2 linked regions of the Homo sapiens genome follow. The protein of the gene in region 2 binds, or shares a complex with, the protein of the main gene of each other region. Each region holds a gene or a part of one and is shown on either strand. Other genes may lie near its edges.

Evidence for each region. The genes of interacting proteins can lie anywhere in the genome.
Region 1: SMC2 (region 2) and NCAPD2 share a complex: the UniProt entries of both Homo sapiens proteins name them as parts of the condensin complex.

The regions. Positions count from the first base shown.
Region 1 is NC_000012.12:6,510,966-6,519,715, forward strand, and holds part of NCAPD2 (condensin complex subunit 1), read left to right. Parts: intron 1-144; coding exon 145-287; intron 288-3,299; coding exon 3,300-3,427; intron 3,428-3,498; coding exon 3,499-3,622; intron 3,623-3,807; coding exon 3,808-3,955; intron 3,956-5,862; coding exon 5,863-6,060; intron 6,061-6,399; coding exon 6,400-6,534; intron 6,535-6,630; coding exon 6,631-6,718; intron 6,719-6,813; coding exon 6,814-6,994; intron 6,995-8,750. UniProt on the Homo sapiens protein: Regulatory subunit of the condensin complex, a complex required for conversion of interphase chromatin into mitotic-like condense chromosomes.
Region 2 is NC_000009.12:104,123,546-104,133,508, forward strand, and holds part of SMC2 (structural maintenance of chromosomes protein 2), read left to right. Parts: intron 1-1,366; coding exon 1,367-1,560; intron 1,561-3,095; coding exon 3,096-3,239; intron 3,240-3,740; coding exon 3,741-3,935; intron 3,936-6,099; coding exon 6,100-6,300; intron 6,301-8,463; coding exon 8,464-8,580; intron 8,581-9,963. UniProt on the Homo sapiens protein: Central component of the condensin complex, a complex required for conversion of interphase chromatin into mitotic-like condense chromosomes.

The sequences.
Region 1 (8,750 bases), on a different chromosome or scaffold from region 2:
AGTAGCGCTGTGGAACTTGTAATATTTCTTCCGTATTACCTTCTATGTTGTCTTGGTACTAGATTGTTTGGGCACTCAGACTGACAGATCTTGACCCACTTTTTTCCCTTATTTTTTCCTCAATGTATACATGATCCTTTTTAGGGTAAGAAAGCTCGGACCAAGGCAGCCCATGGCTTTGACTGGGAAGAAGAGAGGCAACCAATTCTTCAGCTTTTAACACAGCTACTTCAGTTGGACATCCGTCACCTGTGGAACCACTCAATAATTGAAGAAGAATTTGTCAGGTGGGTAGGGAGGATGGCTACAGATAATACTGAGCTGTGAGAGTGAGGCTCTGTTGATAGATATGCCGTTTTTTTGGTTTTGTTTTTTTTTTGTGGGGGGACAGAGCTTCACTCTTGTCGCCCAGGCTGGAGCGCAGTGGTTCAATCTCGGCTCACTGCAGCCTCTACCTCCTGGGTTCAAGCAATTTTCCTGCCTCAGCCTCCCGAGTAGCTGGGATTACAGGTGCCCGCCACCACAAGCTGATTTTTGTATTTTTAATAGAGACGGGTTTTGCCATGTTGGCCAGGCTGGTCTTGAACTCCTAACCTCAGGTGATCTCCCTGCTTTGGCCCCCCAAAGTGCTGGGATTACAGGTGTGAGCCACCACGCCCAGCCAGAAGTCTATTTTTAAAATAAGTAAAATAAGTTTGATGGAAGAAGGTTGTGATTTTAAATCAGCTACTCTAGGCCCGGTGCGGTGGCTCACGCCTATAATCCCAGCACTCTGGGAGGCCGAGGCGAGTGGATCACCTGAGGTCAGGAGTTCAAGACCGGCCTGGCCAACATGGTGAAACCTTGTCTCTACTAAAAAAATATGAAAATTAGCTGTGCATGGTGGTGTGTGCCTGTAATGCCAGCTACTTGGGAGGCTGAGGCAGGAGCATCACTTGAACCTGGGAGAGGGAGGTTGCAATGAGCTGAGATCGCACCATTGCACTCCATCCTGGGCGACAAGAGCAAAATCCCGTCTCAAAAAAAATAGATAGGGCCAGGCGCGGTGGCTCACGCCTGTAATCCCAGCACTTTGGGAGGCTGAGGCAGGTGGATCACGAGGTCAGGAGATCGAGACCACGGTGAAACCCCGTCTCTACTAAAAATACAAAAAAAAATTAGCCGGGCATGGTGGCGGGCGCCTCTAGTCCCAGCTACTCAGGAGGCTGAGGCAGGAGAATGGCGTGAACCCGGGAGGTGGAGCTTGCAGTGACCTGAGATCGCGCCACTGCACTCCAGCCTGGGCAACAGAGCAAGACTCCATCTCCAAAAAAAAAAAAAAAAAAAAAGATAGATAGATAGATAGACAGACAGACAAACAGACAGACAAGCTACTCTAGTAAGACTTCTTTGAGATGGTGACATTTGAGCAAAGACCCAGAGGAGGTGACTGAGAGCTATGAGAATATGTGGAGGAATAGCAAGGGCAGGGAAAAGGAATAGCATATGCAAAGACCTTGAGGAGGGAGCATGTCCAGCACGTACGAGCAATAGCAAGGAGGCCAGAGAGCTGACAGCTGAGAGCAGGTACGAGGGTTAGGCCGTGAGGCCATGGGAGCAGTGGGGAGCCAGACCGCAGGTTCTTGTGGGCCATCATGGTGACTTTGGCATTTCCTCAGAATGAAGTGGAGCCACTGGGGAGCCACAAGCAGGGAGGTGAGGTGACCTGACTTGTACTTCAACAGGGCCATCCTAGCTGTTGTATTGAAATCGACTATGGAGGGAAAGGGGAAGCAAGAGACCAGTTAAGAGGCTGTTCCAATAACTCAAGCAAGAGATGATGGTCTCTTAGACCAAGGCGTGGCAGTGGAGATGGGGAGAAGTAGTTGGATTCTATACTTTTTCCTTAAGGTAGAGCTTACAGGATTTGCTAACAGACTGGGTGTGAGGTGGGAGGGAGAGTTCAGTCAAGGATGACTCTCCCGGGTTTTGGTCTGAGCATTTGGAAGACTGGAGTTAATGGTAACTGAGATAGGGAGAAGGCTGTGAATAGGTGTTTTGGGAGGAAGATCAGATGTTCTGTTTTGGACATACAAAGTTTGAGGTGTTTATTAGCCACGTAAAGTCAGATTTGGACGTTGAATATATAGATCTGGAGTTCAGGAGAGAGGTCTGAGCTAGAGATAACACATTTGGGAATATAATAGTATTCAGAGCCGTGAGACTGAATGAAATTACCAAATCAGTAAGTGTAGCTAAAAGAGCAGGAATCCAAGGACTGGTACCCTAGGGCACTCCAGCATTAAGAGTGAGGATGCCGGGTGCATGGCTCACGCCTATAATCCTAGCACTTTGGGAGGCTGAGGCAGGAGGATCACTTGAGCCCAGGAGTTTGAGATCAGCCTGGACAACATAGTGAAACTGTGTCTCTACAAAAAATAGAAAAATTAGCTGGGCATGGTGGAGGCTGAGGTGGGAGCATCACCTGAGCTATGAGGAGGTCAAGGATGCAGTGAGCCGTGATTGCACCACTGCACTCCAGCCTGGGCAACAGAGGCAGACCCTGTCTCAAAAAAAAGAGTCTGAGGAGGAACTAGCCAAAGAAACTGAGAAAGGAGTCTTGTTCTTGTGTCCTGGAAGCGAGATAAAGCATATATTTCAAGGAGAAAGTGAGTGATTAACTGTATCACATGCAGCTGTGAAAGACCACTTGAGATGCAGATTGAATCAGTCGTTATATTTAGGAATGAGAAGTCATTGGTGACTTTGTCTTTTTTTTTTTTTTTTTTGTGATGGAGTCTCGCAATGTCGCCTGGCCTGGAGTGCAGTGGCATGATATCAGCTCACTGCAACCTCCACCTCCCAGGTTCAAGGGATTCTCCTGCCTCAGCCTCCCAAGTAGCTGGGATTACAGGCGCCCACCACCACACCCAGCTAATTTTTTGTATTTTTAGTAGAGACAGGGTTTCACTATGTTGGCCAAGCTGGTCTTGAATGCCTGACCTCGTGATCCACCTGCCTCGGCCTCCCAAAGTGCTGGGATTACAGGCATGAGCCACCACACCCGGCCAACTCTATCATATTTTTATGATATATTTAGGTTCTTTGTCAGCATCACAACTGGTTGAAAGTTGGTAATCTTGAAGGAAGGAGTACCTAACTGGGGTCAGCAAAGCAAAGCAACTTGTTATAGAAAGTAATGGCTAGAATAAAGAAAACCCTGACTTTGGGAGCAGTAGGGATAGAATGAATGAGGCAGGGCTCTGATACAATTGGATTCAGACAGCTGCTTTCATCATCTCAAACTCTTCCTTTCTCAGTTTGGTTACTGGCTGTTGCTACCGCCTTCTGGAGAATCCCACCATTAATCACCAGAAGAACCGCCCCACTCGGGAAGCCATAACACACCTGCTTGGTGTAGCCTTGACCCGTTATAACCATATGCTCAGTAAGTTACCAGTCGCTTTGCCCCGCCTTTTTTGTATTGCCCATAATTTCTCATGTTTAATGCTTCCACAGGTGCTACAGTGAAGATCATCCAGATGCTGCAGCACTTTGAACACCTGGCACCTGTACTGGTTGCAGCCGTGAGTCTATGGGCAACTGACTATGGAATGAAGAGCATAGTGGGAGAGATTGTAAGGTGACTCTTCCTTCTCGAAGTTTCTCATGCTTATTTTCCTTGGGGAGGGAATAAAGAAAGATTGGAAATACATTATCTGTGCAACAGTAGATTCCTTCAGATATTAGATACCTGTCTTACCTTCCCTTACTGGGAACTGAATAATTGATCTATGTTGCTATGGCTGTGTTTTCTTCCCTGTGTAGAGAGATTGGACAAAAGTGTCCCCAAGAGCTGAGTCGAGACCCTTCAGGGACAAAGGGCTTTGCAGCATTCCTGACAGAACTAGCAGAACGTGTCCCAGCTATCCTGATGTCCAGCATGTGCATTTTGCTAGATCACCTGGATGGAGAAGTAGGTGGTCCACTAGGGGTCACTGAGCTTTTTCTGGGGATTTTAAGTCCAGTGTTGAAAGGCTGTTTCTTAACAGAACAAGAAAGTAGCTTTGACAAGTTGTCTAGATTTATCATTGTGACATTTCCTTTCTGTAGAGAAGCAGGTCAAGTTTGTTGAATAAGGAGCTCTTTATTAATCTGTTAATCTTTCAATTCACATTGCTTTTATCCAGTTCTGGTAAGGGAGATGACATTTCTGCAGCTTAAGTCTAGTAAGAGCAACTCAGCTTTGATTTTTTTTTTTTCTTGGAGGTAGGATCTGGCTCTGTCACCCATGCTGGAGCATGATCATAGCTCATTGCAGCCTCGATCTCCTGGGCTCAAGCAATCCTCCCACCTCAGCCTCCCAAGTAGCTGGGACTTCAGGCACATACTACCATGCCTGGCTAATTTTTTTAGTTTTTGTAGAGGTGGGGTCTTGCCATATTGCCCAGGCTAGTCTCAAACTCCTGGTCTCAAGCAACCCTCCTGCCTCAGCCTCCCAAAGTGCTGGGATTGCAGGCGCTACCATGCTTAGCCTTCAGCTTTGATTCTGAGTCCCATCTGTTCCTCAGGATAAAGCGTCTTCCCACCAGCTGGCTTGCCTTGCTTCCTCAAACAATGAACTTTCTCAAATCAACCCATGTCATCTCTCTCAATTCTCTTTTATGCCTGAATGCTAACCTGGCTGATTCCCATACTGATGTTGGGCACTCCTAGGTGAATGTCAAGGACAAAGACAGTCCACTTGTTCATCTCATTTACTTTAACTTTTTGTGCAAGACCCTATTCTCTGGTTCTTAGCCTGGCAAAACCTTAACCCTGCTCTCCACTAGATTATGTATTGGACTTGCTGGCACTCTTAAGGCTGATTTCCATGTTTCTGTCTCATTTTCTGTCAGTAAAGCATCTGAAGGAGAGTGGGAGGGAAAGGAGGGGATATTTATTAGTAAGGATTAAAGACTTTGAGGCCAGGTGTGGTGGCTCACGCCTGTAATCCCAGCACTTTGGGAGGCTGAGGTGAGTGGATCACTTGAGGTCAAGAGTTTAAGACTAGCCTGGCCAACATGGTGAAATCCCATCTCTACTAAAAATACAAAAAAAAATTAGCTGGGTGTGGTGGCGCGCACCTGTAATCCTAGCTACTCGGGAGGCTGAAGTGGGAGGGTTGCTTGAACCTGGGAAATGGAGGTTACAGTGAGCCGAGATCGCACCACTGCACTCCAACCTGGGTGACAAAACGAGACTCTGTCTCAAAAAAAAAACCAAAAAAAACCACACAGACGGGCGCGGTGGCTCACGCCTATAATCTCAGCACTTTGGGAGGCCGAGGAGGGTGGATCACGAGGTCAGGAGTTTGAGACCAGCCTGGCCAATATGGTGAAATCCTGTCTCTACTAAAAATACAAAAATTAGCTGGGTGTGGTGGCGGGCACCTGTAATCCCAGCTGCTTGGGAGGCTGAGGCAGGAGAATCACTTGAACCCGGGAGTCAGAGGTTGCAGTGAGCCGAGATGGCGCCACAGCACTCCAGCCTGGGCAACAGAGCAAGACTCCGTCTCAAAAACAAACAAACAACCACAATAACAAAGGCTTTGAGACCTCAGCTGAAGGGTAGTTAATAAATGCTTTTCAAATGTGTGTTGGTGAGTGGATGTGATTTTTTTATTCAGCTACTACCATGCTTTCCTGTGTGAGCCCTATGAGGAAAAATTGGTTTTGGCCCTTGTTCTAGCATTCTCTGAGCAACAAGTCCTCTTTGGGATTCAGCTTTCTCCTGTGACCTTGGGAGTGAATACCTAGGCAGTTAATGGAAAAAGTTATGGCCAAGCACAAGCAAGCTTCGCCTTGACTAAAGGTTTGACCCCTCTATGCTTCTCTCTCTTAGAATTACATGATGCGTAATGCTGTGCTGGCAGCCATGGCGGAGATGGTGCTGCAGGTTCTCAGTGGCGATCAACTGGAAGCAGCAGCCCGAGACACCAGAGACCAGTTCTTGGATACTTTACAAGCCCATGGCCATGATGTCAACTCCTTTGTGCGGAGCCGTGTTTTGCAGCTCTTCACCCGAATTGTCCAGCAGAAGGTAACCAACTTCTATGTGGCAAAAACATATGGTACCTCTCCATATACCAGTGTAAAGAGGAATCCAGTGTTGAAGATAAATATCTGCCCCAAAGAGGTCTAGAATTCACATTTTTATTATCAGTAGTAAAAGTCTTCCTCTACCAAGGACGAGGATATCTGGCTCCCTTTAAGGACTGTAATGTGTCTTACCACTACAAGGAGTACTCCTAATCTATATTCTGTAGAAAGGGTTTTTAGAGTGAGTGGGTAGCTCAGTTTAGAGTATACTTAAAGATCATCTTGAACAAAATGGATGATGTGGGACTTGAGCAGATTCTTCTCTTCCTACCCTACACAGGCTCTCCCCCTGACACGTTTCCAGGCAGTGGTGGCTTTAGCTGTGGGACGTCTGGCAGACAAGTCAGTGCTAGTATGTAAAAATGCCATCCAGCTGCTGGCCAGTTTTCTAGCCAATAATCCTTTCTCCTGCAAGGTAAGTAGACTTGGTCCACCAAAAGAGAAGGAATTAAATGGAAACAGGGATGAAATTATGTCATTTACTGACCCTGCTATTCATTTTACCTGATAGCTTAGTGATGCTGACCTTGCCGGACCACTGCAGAAGGAGACCCAGAAATTACAAGAGATGAGGGCCCAGAGGCGAACTGCAGCAGCTTGTAAGTAGTTACTGCCTTGGAGTCCTAATGCCAGACAGGCTTCTCCTTGCAGTCAGAAACTCTAGTGAAAGAGACTAAGTGACACTCTCATTTAGCTGCAGTGCTGGACCCAGAGGAGGAGTGGGAAGCCATGCTGCCAGAGTTGAAGTCTACCCTGCAGCAGCTTCTACAGCTTCCCCAGGGAGAGGAGGAGATTCCTGAGCAAATTGCCAATACAGAGACAACTGAAGATGTGAAAGGACGCATCTATCAACTGCTTGCCAAAGCTAGTTACAAGTAGGCAAAAGAATGGGATATTCTTCGTGATCTGTTTATGTTTAGAGTTAACCTTTGAGAAACTTACATAATGTGTCTTTTAAATTAACTGCACACAGATATGCTGCCACCAGGTGATGGTAGATGTTTTCATGTAGTAATGGTCTGACCATAGGCCTAGTCCACAATTAAGCATGTGTTTCTACTTTATAAATGTTTAAAAAAACTACTGAAACAATTAAATGTTAACAGTATTATAATCAAACATGAGTCCTCCTTCAATTGAAGAAGAGCACCTATAAATAAGTTCTAGTTGTATGATCTTGAATAAGTTGCTTAACTTTCTGTGCCTCGGTTTCATTATCTATAAAATAAGAAATTGATTAGATCTTATGATCTCTAAGGACTTTCTAATTCTAAATTTCATGAACTAATAATATCAAACATGCTTAATACTACCTTAATCTTCAAACCTAGTATGAATCCTGATCTTAGAGAAAAGATTTCTCCTAGTGTTTTTGTGACTCTAGAACTTAACAACAAAAGCCCTTACAGCCGTCAACAAGTTTTTTTTTTTTTTTTTTTTTTTTTTTTTTGAGATGGAGTCTCACTCACTCTGTTGCCCAGGCTGCAGTACAGTGACACGATCTTGGCTCACTGCAACCTCTGCCTCCCAGGTTCAAGCAATTCTCGTGCCTCAGCCTCCCAAGTAGCTGGGACCACAGGCGCGCACCACCACACCGCACTAATTTTTTTATTTTTAGTAGAGACAGGGTTTCACCATATTGGCCAGGCTGGTCTTGAACTCCTGACCTCAGGTGATCCACCCATCTCAGCCTCCCAAAGTGCCATGATTACAGGCGTGAGCCACCGCACTCGGCTGCCAACAAGTATTCTTAAACCTCAGCCACAAGTTATTTGTTATTTATTTACTTCTTACCTAATTGGGCTGAATTTTTTTTTTGGAGACGGAGTCTTGCTCTGTTGCCCAGGCTGGAGTGCAGTGGTGCGATCTTGGCTCACTGCAACCTCCACCTCCTGGGTTCACGCCATTCTCCTGCCTCAGCCTCCCGAGTAGCTGGGACTACAGGCGCCCGCCACCACGCCCGGCTAATTTTTTTTTTTATATTTTTAGTAGAGACGGGGTTTCACCGTGTTAGCCAGGATGGTCTCAATCTCCTGACCTCGTGATCCGCCTGCCTCGGCCTCCCAAAGTGCTGGGATTACAGGCTTGAGCCACCGTGCCCGGCTTGGGCTGTTTTTAGAAGGCTAGAGAGTGGCTTGTTTGCCCTATGACTCCCTTATGTTACTTTAGTGTCTCTCTTTTTATTTTGCTAAAGCAAAAATAGAGACTATAGTTTTATAAGTGCATGTTCCACCAAGCATTCTAGTATTTTCTCCTGTCAATTAGAAAAGGATTGTTTGTTTTTGAGACAGAATCTCACTGTTGCCCAGGCTGGAGTACAGTAGCGCAATCACAGCTCACTGCAGCCTCTCACTGTAGCCTCAACCCTGCTGGGCTCAAGCGATCTCCCACATTAGCCTCCTGAGTAGCCTGGTTAATTTATTTATAATTTGTAGCTGGGATTACAGGTACACACCACCAGGCCTGGCCTTTGCCAGCCTGGGCAACGTGGCAAGAAGATAACATGTAGACAAGCAGTCAAACATGTATTCTTTTTTTCCCCCTTTTATATGACTGATAGAATTCTCTGCCCACTGATCTACCATCTTGTTTTTTTCACTTAACTATGTGTCTCAGTGGTTTTTAAAAATA
Region 2 (9,963 bases):
TTAATTTGCATTTCCCTAATTGCTGATGAAATTTGGGATCTTTTTTTGTATGTTCATTGGACCTTTGGGTTTATACTTGTGTGAATTTTCTGTTTATTTCTTTTGCCCATGGGTTGCTCATGGTTTTTTTCCCACTGTTCTCATGCTTAAGAGTCCTAATTTCCTGTAGGTTATGTGCATTGCAAATATCCTTTTACCATCTTTTTTGGCTATGTACTGGTCTTTTAATTTTGTGTTCATAGTATTTTTGTTTTACAAAAGTTTTTAATATTTAGTGTAATTCACTTTATAGCCATTTCCCTAATTTTAAGATAGCTTATATGTTTTCCTTAGAATTTAATTGTATATGGTAGTTTAAATTTTTGTCATTCATTAGGACAATATCCACACATGTGCTTCTCCACTAATATTTTAATAGTATTTTCTGCAGTGAAAAGTAGTGTAAGAAATTGTGCGGTAATGACTTCCAAGGTTATGTTTGCACCTGGGTCCTAACACTCACAATATACATCAGTTGTTACAGCAACACGTGTTCATTCAGTATTGCCCTTTTATTTATTTTTTTGAGACGGAGTCTCTCTCTGTCCCCAGGCTGGAGTGCAGTGGCGCAATCTCAGCTCACTGCAACCTCCACCTCCTGGGTTCAGGTGCCTTCCTCAGCCTCCCGAGTAGCTGGGACTACAGGCGTGCATCACCACACCCAGCTAATTTTTGTATTTTTAGTAGAGATGAGGTTTTATCATGTTGGTCAGGATGGTCTTGATCTCTTGACCTCATGATCTGCCTGCCTTGGCTTCCCAAAGTGCTGGGATTACACAGGCATGAACTACCACGCCTGACCTTATTTTTTTCTTTCACAGATTTGGGGATGTTTTTCCTTTGCTGTATCCCAGGCATACTGTCATATTATTTGTCGACTTTAATGAGAAGTTCCCTGAATATGTATAAAATAGGCAAAGAACATAAAGTAAGCTTGTTTATGAAATTACACACTTTCTAGCAACTATAGAAAAAATACCATAGTTATACTGTTCTGGTTTTAGGAAGCATACAATTGCATTAAAAATATGATCTGTGATTTTTTTTTTTTTAATAGGTTGCTTCAATACCTTTGTAAAAGGATAGTTGTAGGTAAAGTTCAATTTCATAGCAAAAGAAATTATTTTGTTACAGATCTTTAGATAATTCAAGTATGGCTTTTGGGTAGGATCTGTGTTTCATTATACCATTTCTAGAATATCATTGGGATAGTTAATTTTCTTAAATTGTACCCTGTAATTTTCCAAACCATTTCTTCTATTAAAAGTTGAATTTGTCAACCTTTACCATTGTTAACTTAGCCACATTTGCTTACTTTGTGATGCAGAGGAAAGTGAGGAGACTTTGAAAAACACTAAAGAAATCCAAAGAAAAGCAGAAGAAAAATATGAAGTATTGGAAAATAAAATGAAAAATGCAGAAGCTGAAAGAGAGCGAGAACTGAAAGATGCTCAGAAAAAACTGGATTGTGCCAAAACAAAGGCAGATGCATCTAGCAAGAAGATGAAAGAAAAACAACAGGTAATAACTTCTTTTTGAAATTGAACCAACCTTTTAAAGTCAACATAGAGCTGAAGGTGGTAGAGCATCATTGGTTGACCTTATTCATCAGAATTGATCTCAGAATCTAAAAGGGAGCAGTGTTCTTTGGAAACAAATTATGCTTCTTACAAGTCAAAGGAGTATCCAGGATGAGCATCTCAAATCCAAAATACAAATTAGAAACTTTTTGAGTGTTGATCTGAGGCTCAAAGGAAATGTTCATTGGAGCAGATTGGATTTGGGATACTCAGTTACTCTGTATAATGCAAATATTCCAAAATCCAAAAAAAAAATCTGAAGTCTGGAAGACTTCTGGTCCTACACACTTTGGATAAGGGATATTTAATCTGTATTTTTCTCTGAAAACCCTGCAATCGAGTGTTTCATAGTTGTGAGTAGGGGATGCTAATTTTAAGGAAAGGGCAAAGTTGACGGTTGGTAAATGCTTCCTTCAAGAGTGGATGGCCTTTCTTCAGGAGTGGATTATTTGATATTCTGGATGTCATATCAGAGATTCAGCAAGTTGACATTTTTATTTGATAAGCACCTAAATGAATGTGCACTGTGAGAGCATAATGGAAGACAAAGCATGTTATATTTACAAGGTGTCATTCAGTTGTAAACTGATGATACTTTGTTATATCTTTTAGCTAATGCCAAAGCTGGAATCTGAACCTAGGTTTTTGTCTCCAAAGGCTACGTTGTTAATCACTTTTATGCGATTTCACCTAAATATATTTCCCTCGCATTTTTTTTTAGCCCACTCTAAGATTCTTGTCATTAAATAGCTGTAAAAAGTATTTTCTAATGCAGGGGTCCCCAACCCCCCAGGCCACAGACCAGTAACAGAGGAGGTGTGTGACAGGCAAATGAGGATTACTGCCTGAGTTCCACCTTGTGTCAGATCAGCTGTGGCATTAGATTCTCAGAGGAGTGCAGACCCTTTTCTGAACTGTGCATGCAAGGGATCTAGGTTGCATATTCCTTATGAGAATCTAATGCGTGATGATCTGAGATGGGGTGGTTTTATCCTGAAACCATACTCTCTCCCTGTGCCCGCCATATGGAAAAATCATCTTCCACAAATCTGGTCCTCGGTGCCAAAAAGGTTGGGGACTGCTCTTCTAATGAACTGAAGGCTATAGTGGGAAAGAAGAATATTGAGAAACTTTTTACACATTGAACAATTTTGTTTTTAAAAAAGCTTTACTTCCAGTAATTCATCTGTTACGTAGAATGTTATATTATTTTCCCTATAGGAATAAAGGATAAAGAAAATAATTTATGCAGAGTTCTTTGAACCTATAAAAATTACACATACTTTTTTTTTTGATATAGGAAAATAAACTTCCTTTTCTGGGGAAGCAGCTTAACCTGTACTTTCGGTAGCTGAGTGGTAACAAAGCTGTGGGTCTTACTTGCATGAGATTATTATTTATTTAATTGTTCTGTACATATTTGTTTTTCAGTAGTTAATAACCTATATGAATACCTGAATACTGTATTTTTTATAGGAAGTTGAAGCTATCACTCTGGAACTGGAAGAGCTCAAGAGAGAGCATACATCTTACAAACAACAGCTTGAAGCTGTAAATGAAGCTATCAAATCCTATGAAAGTCAGATTGAAGTAATGGCAGCTGAGGTGGCTAAAAATAAGGTAGGATTTATTTATCAAATTCGAGAAATTGAAAATGCGAATCTTTTTATGAAACATTAGCTTAAGATGTTTGACTTTAGTGTTCTCAGTCTTTTCACTCGTCATCATGAGAGAATGAGGCACAAATAGCTTTTACTCATCCAGAATTGCCAGTTTTGGGATCACATAGGTCAGTCAGCTTCTAGCAGTCCCTCTTCTTCCTCACTTAGTTGATTCCATCTACATTACATCTAACAAAAAACGCTCTCATTTGCAGCATGAGCGTGCAGCATGAGCATTGTACCTCCCACCCCTTTTACCAGGGATGATCCAAGTTTTCTTCTGTGTATAAATTGATTAGTCCTTTTAATGGTGATATAAAATATAGAGGGTTAGGTGATCATCTCTCTGCCTGTAATCACATTGCCCTCTTGCCCAGGGATCTGTCAGATAATTGTTTAGTAAATTAAAATTATTTACATGTTACCTCACCACATATTTTCTTTAATTTTTTTGTTTTAGGAGTCAGTAAATAAAGCTCAAGAAGAGGTGACCAAGCAAAAAGAGGTGATAACAGCCCAAGACACTGTAATTAAAGCTAAATATGCAGAAGTGGCAAAACACAAGGAGCAAAACAATGATTCTCAGCTTAAAATTAAGGAATTAGACCACAACATCAGCAAACATAAACGGGAGGCTGAAGATGGTGCTGCAAAGGTATACGTTTGTGTGCATTTTTTATACTAAATCAAATTTTTGTTACTGAGCTCTTGAAAAAATTTAGAAAACTGCTTGATAGAGAACTCTATAAATATAAATGGCAAAATTACAGCCTGGCATAAATTTGAGCTTGCAGCTTTAACTGCTTTTCAACAATGCTAATTTTCAACAAATTGCACAAATGTTTTATTTTTAGATTTAACTTTAGATATTTTTTCCCATCTACAGGATGTATTTACCAAATGTTTAGTGGTCTCCCATGGAAATAACTTTTCACCTCCAAATGTTGATAGAACTAATTACTGATGTGCTAGTAATAATGATATATATTCTCTACCTTATTTCAAATTGAATTAAAAAACTCACAGAACTATATATACAGGTAATCTAAAAAAAGGACTGAATTGGCTTCCACATGTCTTTATGAGTGTTACTGCTGTCAGTATTTGCAACTTTATAAAAAATCTGATGTTTTGCCAAGCAGCTATGTTTTTGAGGTTATCCCAGTTTCTTTCTTTCATGTGTCACAGCACCTTTACTTCAGTGCTTTAAAGATAACACGTGCTTTTGCAGAAATTCATTGCTTGGTTAAGAAGCTGCATTCACATGGTATTAATAATTCATCTAGCATGTTTTCTTATGAGTGTGTAACAGTTTGGCACCTTTTTAATGTCCAGGATATTTTTTTTTAGCATCCTAAAAATACATGAACTTTAACTTCAGAAAGATCAAGAACATACAAAACAATCTCCCTCTCTTCTGAAAGAACTGTGGAACTTGATTTAAACAACATTTTTCATGGCTACATTATAATCTACCACTTTATTACTATTGATTTCCCATTAGCTTAGTGATAGTGGACTGACTGAAATACTACCAATGGCAATGTTACTGCTAATAGTTTTTTGGTAATTGAAAATGCTAGTACTGGCGATTGCTAGGAGATTTTATTTACAAGAGTAAAAGGAGGGACTTGCAAGTGGGTCTGCTAAGAAGTCAATCAAAGATTTATACATACCTACCAGTATCAGATACTGTGCCAGGCACTGACAATGTAAGGATGAGCAACACATACAGGATGCTTTCAAAGAGTTTACAGGTCAAAAGGAAGATACACTAGAAATGATAATTGTACTTTGGGGCCTACAGGTGAGACCATATCCATGGAATTAATACAAGTCAATAAATTAACAAGGATTGGATTCTGCCAGTGAGAATGAATCATAATTCTAGTAGAAGAAAGTCTTCTTTAGGCACTATAATTTGAACTGTATAATCAGTTGTATTACATGAAAAATTATTATACAGTGCCTTTTTCAATATACTGTGCCTTTTTCAAAAGGTGGGGAGCAGGATAGAGTCAATGTTTAGGGCAGTTTCTTAGAATATATTTCTGAGAGAAAAATTATTAGGTCTCAGTCAGCATTAGGCTTCCATGATTTTTACCAAATCTATGACTTAAGTATTAAAAGAGTTTTAGCTTCTCATAAGTTGTGTTTTGAAGCAATAGATTGAATTTGGTAAATTCTGAAGGAGTTCTACCTGACTTACATTTCATTCTAATGGAGGTGCTTTGCGTATACTTCGTAAAAATTTCTCTGTGAGTTGGCTCTTCTAATGCCAAAGTAATAGGAAGATCTTTTGCTATACAGTGTCTTGTTTCTGTAGTCTGTGTTCCAGGTAAAAATATTCATCTTTATTCTTGTCAGTAATGAAACTCATTTTTAAAAATGAGTCGCCTAGGCACGGTGGCTCACGCCTGTAATCCCAGCACTTTGGGAGGCCGAGGTTGGCAGATCACCTGAGGTCGGGAGTTCCAGATCAGCCTGACCAACATGGAGAAACCCCGTCTCTACTAAAAATACAAAATTAGCTGGGCGTGGTGGTACATACCTGTGATCCCAGTTACTCAGGAGGCTGAGGCAGCAGAATCACTTGAACCTGGGAGGTGTAAGTTGCGGTCAGCCAAGATCGCGCCATTGCACTCCAGCTTGGGCAACAAGAGTGAAACTCCATCTCAAAAAAAAAAAAAAAATTAGTCATTGAAGGTTTTTTCCTCTTCAGTATTTGATTCAAAAGTATTAAATAGTTAAGAAACTGGCTTATACATATTGGTTTGTAAACATTCATAGATCTCCCATCTATTTTTATATGTGGCTAGGTATCCAAAATGTTGAAAGATTATGACTGGATTAATGCAGAGAGACACCTCTTTGGCCAACCCAATAGTGCCTATGATTTCAAAACTAACAACCCTAAAGAAGCTGGTCAGAGACTTCAGAAGTTGCAAGAAATGAAGGAGAAACTAGGAAGAAATGTCAATATGAGAGCTATGAATGTATTGACAGAAGCTGAAGAGCGAGTAAGTCAATTTCTTATGAATATCTGGCCGCATTAGAACATGACTAGCATTGACAGCTCTGTATGACCTCTGATGCAATTATTAGAGTTAACCTTTTGCAGATGTCCTTGATACTTTTCTTTCTGCTTTCCTTTTTCTCTTTTCGTCATTTTTTTCTTATTACTCTTATGCATCATTAGTTGTTTTTACATTCTATTACACCTGGAATGACTTTTTCACTGGCTTTTGTTCTTTGTCAAACATAATTCCTCACATTTCTATCATTTCATTTCTTTCACTTGCATTGAAAAGCCTTGAATAGGATATACTTCTGTCATCCTCTTGACTCTACTGTATACTGAAACTATATAAGTAATGACTAAAGCCATTATACACATAAATACTGTTTCACTGATCTGTAAATTCTGCAGCCTCTTCTCAGTTTTAATGCTCTCAATTACTCAATAATGTTATTCTTCCCTAACCTGACAAAACTTTGAGTCTGGGAAGGGAGTTTACTGTCATCTAGTGATGAACTTGGGAGGACCTATCACTAGAAAAACCCAGTGGGGGAAGCATTCCCTACTCTTAAGATAGCCATAAGAAATGGCTATCTTAGTAATTTTATATTAATGCCCCTATTAATGCCCCATACCTTCCTGAATGCTGGAAAATTCTGTTTGAATTTGCAAATCAGAGTAAAATTCATGAGAAATCTGCGACACTGATAATAGCACAGTTACTTTGAAGAAATTTTACCATAATTTTTTTTAACTGTTTTTGGCATGAATATGCACAAAGAGTCTATATTATATTAGATACCAAACAGATGAATCATGCAGGTATTGTGATCTCTCTAGAAAATGCTCCTGCTGGTTTTCATTTCTACATTAAAGCTTTGCAATATGTGATATATTTGTAGAAGGAAAACTTTGGTCTGAATTTGATCTGCATAACATGAAACTTGTTCACTTTTACTCGTTTACTTCTATTAGATGAGACCTGAGTCTAATATTTTTTTCAAAAGAATTTATCAACTCCCATCTCTTTACCAGAGGAGAAGCCTATATTGTTGATCAGCAGATGGCCTTTTTTTTTCTTGTGTTTTGTATCTATCTACATAAGCAATTACATGGATTTTCATGAAAAAATAAGATAAAAATGTAGAGAGAAGGTTAGGGGAGCGTGGCTGTAAAGAAGAGGGACAGCAAGGAAAACAGCAGGACTGACTAGAATTGTTAAAGGTGAATGTGAAGCCTCCTTGAAATGTAGGGCTTTGAGGAGAAATGAATTAGGAAGAGTTTTAGGAAGTCCCATTGCTGTTCATGGTATGATTATCCCTCTACAGCCTTGCTTGAAGGAAGACTACTCTAAAGTGGTGATATTTGAGCTGAAATTTCAGGCAACCGTTATGTCAGAGAAAGAGCATTCCAGGAAGGGAGAATAGTGCAGGGGCCATAAGACAATAGTGAGTTTATTATGTTCAAAGGAGCTGTAAAAGACCATATGGCCAGAACCTGGGGAGGAGTTTAATGCCATAAAGTCAAGGGATAAATAAGGTCCAATTCCCTTTATCCTGATGCATACAGGGCTTAAAACCTGGTTGATTGGTGCAGCAAGCCATCATGGCACATGTATACCTATGTAACAAACCTGCACATTCTGCACATGTATCCCAAAACTTAAAATTAAAAAAAAGTAAGGTCCAATTTATGTGGTTCCTATATATCATGGTGAAGGATCAAAATTTTGTTCATGTCACTGCTAAGGCTGACCTTAAGAGGAGAGCTTTCAGGGCTCCTTTTACTTAAGTTTATATGTAACACTTTTTTTTTTTTTTTTTGCCTTGGCTGCTAAGGAGATAAGGGAATATTAGTGGAGTCAAAATATTTTAAGGACTTTGTCTTATAAATTCTTAGTTCTAGTAATTTAGTTATATACATATGGATGATTTTATTCCTAATTTTGTTAAGAGTGTGTATATGAGTGTGTATATACACACACATCATACAGTATATGTATAGTATATGAGTATATATAATTCTTAGTGCATTATATCTTTTTGGTAAATAGCAATGTATGTATTGTATATAAAAATAATGAAAACTGTTTATTTCTGACCAAATTCCAGAATATAGAAGAGATTTTATATTTTCCCAGTTAACCATGTTTTTTATCTCATAGTACAATGACTTGATGAAGAAGAAGAGAATTGTAGAAAATGACAAATCCAAAATTCTTACAACTATAGAAGACCTTGACCAGAAGAAAAACCAAGCCCTAAATATTGCATGGCAAAAGGTACTTTTTATGTTTGTTTTATATGAGGTTGCAAGGATGAAAAAATATCATCAGTGGAGTTATACTCTATAAGAAATTTGAAATAGCTGATCTATGTTTGAATGAGGCACATATTCACACCTTAATTAAAACCTCTGACTTTTAAATGCATTTTTTTCTTTTTGAACTTGACTACTACCAGATCCTGGCATTCTTGTACTTCTGTAAGAATTGGATAGTAAACAAGCCAAGTTTAGTATTCTCTTTTACAGGATGCTTATTCAACAAAATCCCAATTCCATTTTGTTTTATGACAACTTTGGCAGATCTTAGGCTTCTTTACTGTTACTTCTACTTCCCTGACTTCATGTATCTGTCTCCTATAGGATAATTCCTTAGCCTCTCATGTGGAAGTTTTTCCATTTTTACTATAGCGGAAGATTCTTACTTCAGAGATTCCAAACATAGAGTTACTGTGCTGTTTGGTAGTTTAGCAAACCTGTGCCTTCTGGGTTTTAATGGGGCACCTTGCCTCTTTTTCTCTTTGTAATTCTGTAGGAACTCTATCTTCAGTAATGCAGCACAATTATCCCTTTTAGTCACCTTGTTTTTTTCTTCTCTAAGACTTATTTTCAGTGCTCCATTCCCTGTAATATTTTTCTCTTAAAAATGGAAGCAAAAGGCTGACCCTATTAATTAGTGTGCAGCATGTCGATTTAACACTGGATCTGAGAGGTTTTTTTTTTTTTCTTTTTTCCCACCAGGATTCGTGGACTTAGTACAAATCAGAATCTATTGTCTAAACATATCCTGCTCTTCCCAAATTTCCAAGGTTCTTCCAAAGCCAGTAACATTTATTCAGTGCTTATTATATGCCAGTCACTATTCTCAAATTAATTTTCTCATCTAATCTTCACAATAATCTAACAAAGTAGGTACTGTTATCAGCATTATATTCTTCCTTCTGGCTTCAGGCTTACTTGATTGACAAAGTGACAAAGCCAGAGTATTCTAGGCTTTTTTTGTTTTTGGTTTGTTTTCTTCATAGCCTCATTGGACTTGCAGAATTCTCTTTTATTTCATCTTTATATCGATCTATGAATATAACTCATTTTCTGTGTAGCATAGGGCTGTATTCTTCTCTGTCCATTCTCTTTTGGAGGAAGTTTCACACTGGGTCTCTGGTTCAAGTTTAGTAGCATTCCTCTCTCTTGGTCCTGAGCTGCCTGTCCCACACTTGGCCTAGAACCTGCTTCCACTCTGTAGGATATTATTCAGCAGCCATGTACTTGCTTTTAAAATGTGTGTTACTTAGTAAATCTATATTTAGGATCACTGCTTGTGTCTATGAGATTTTCTTGTTACTATAAGTATTCATTAAAAAGTATATTTACATTTGAATAT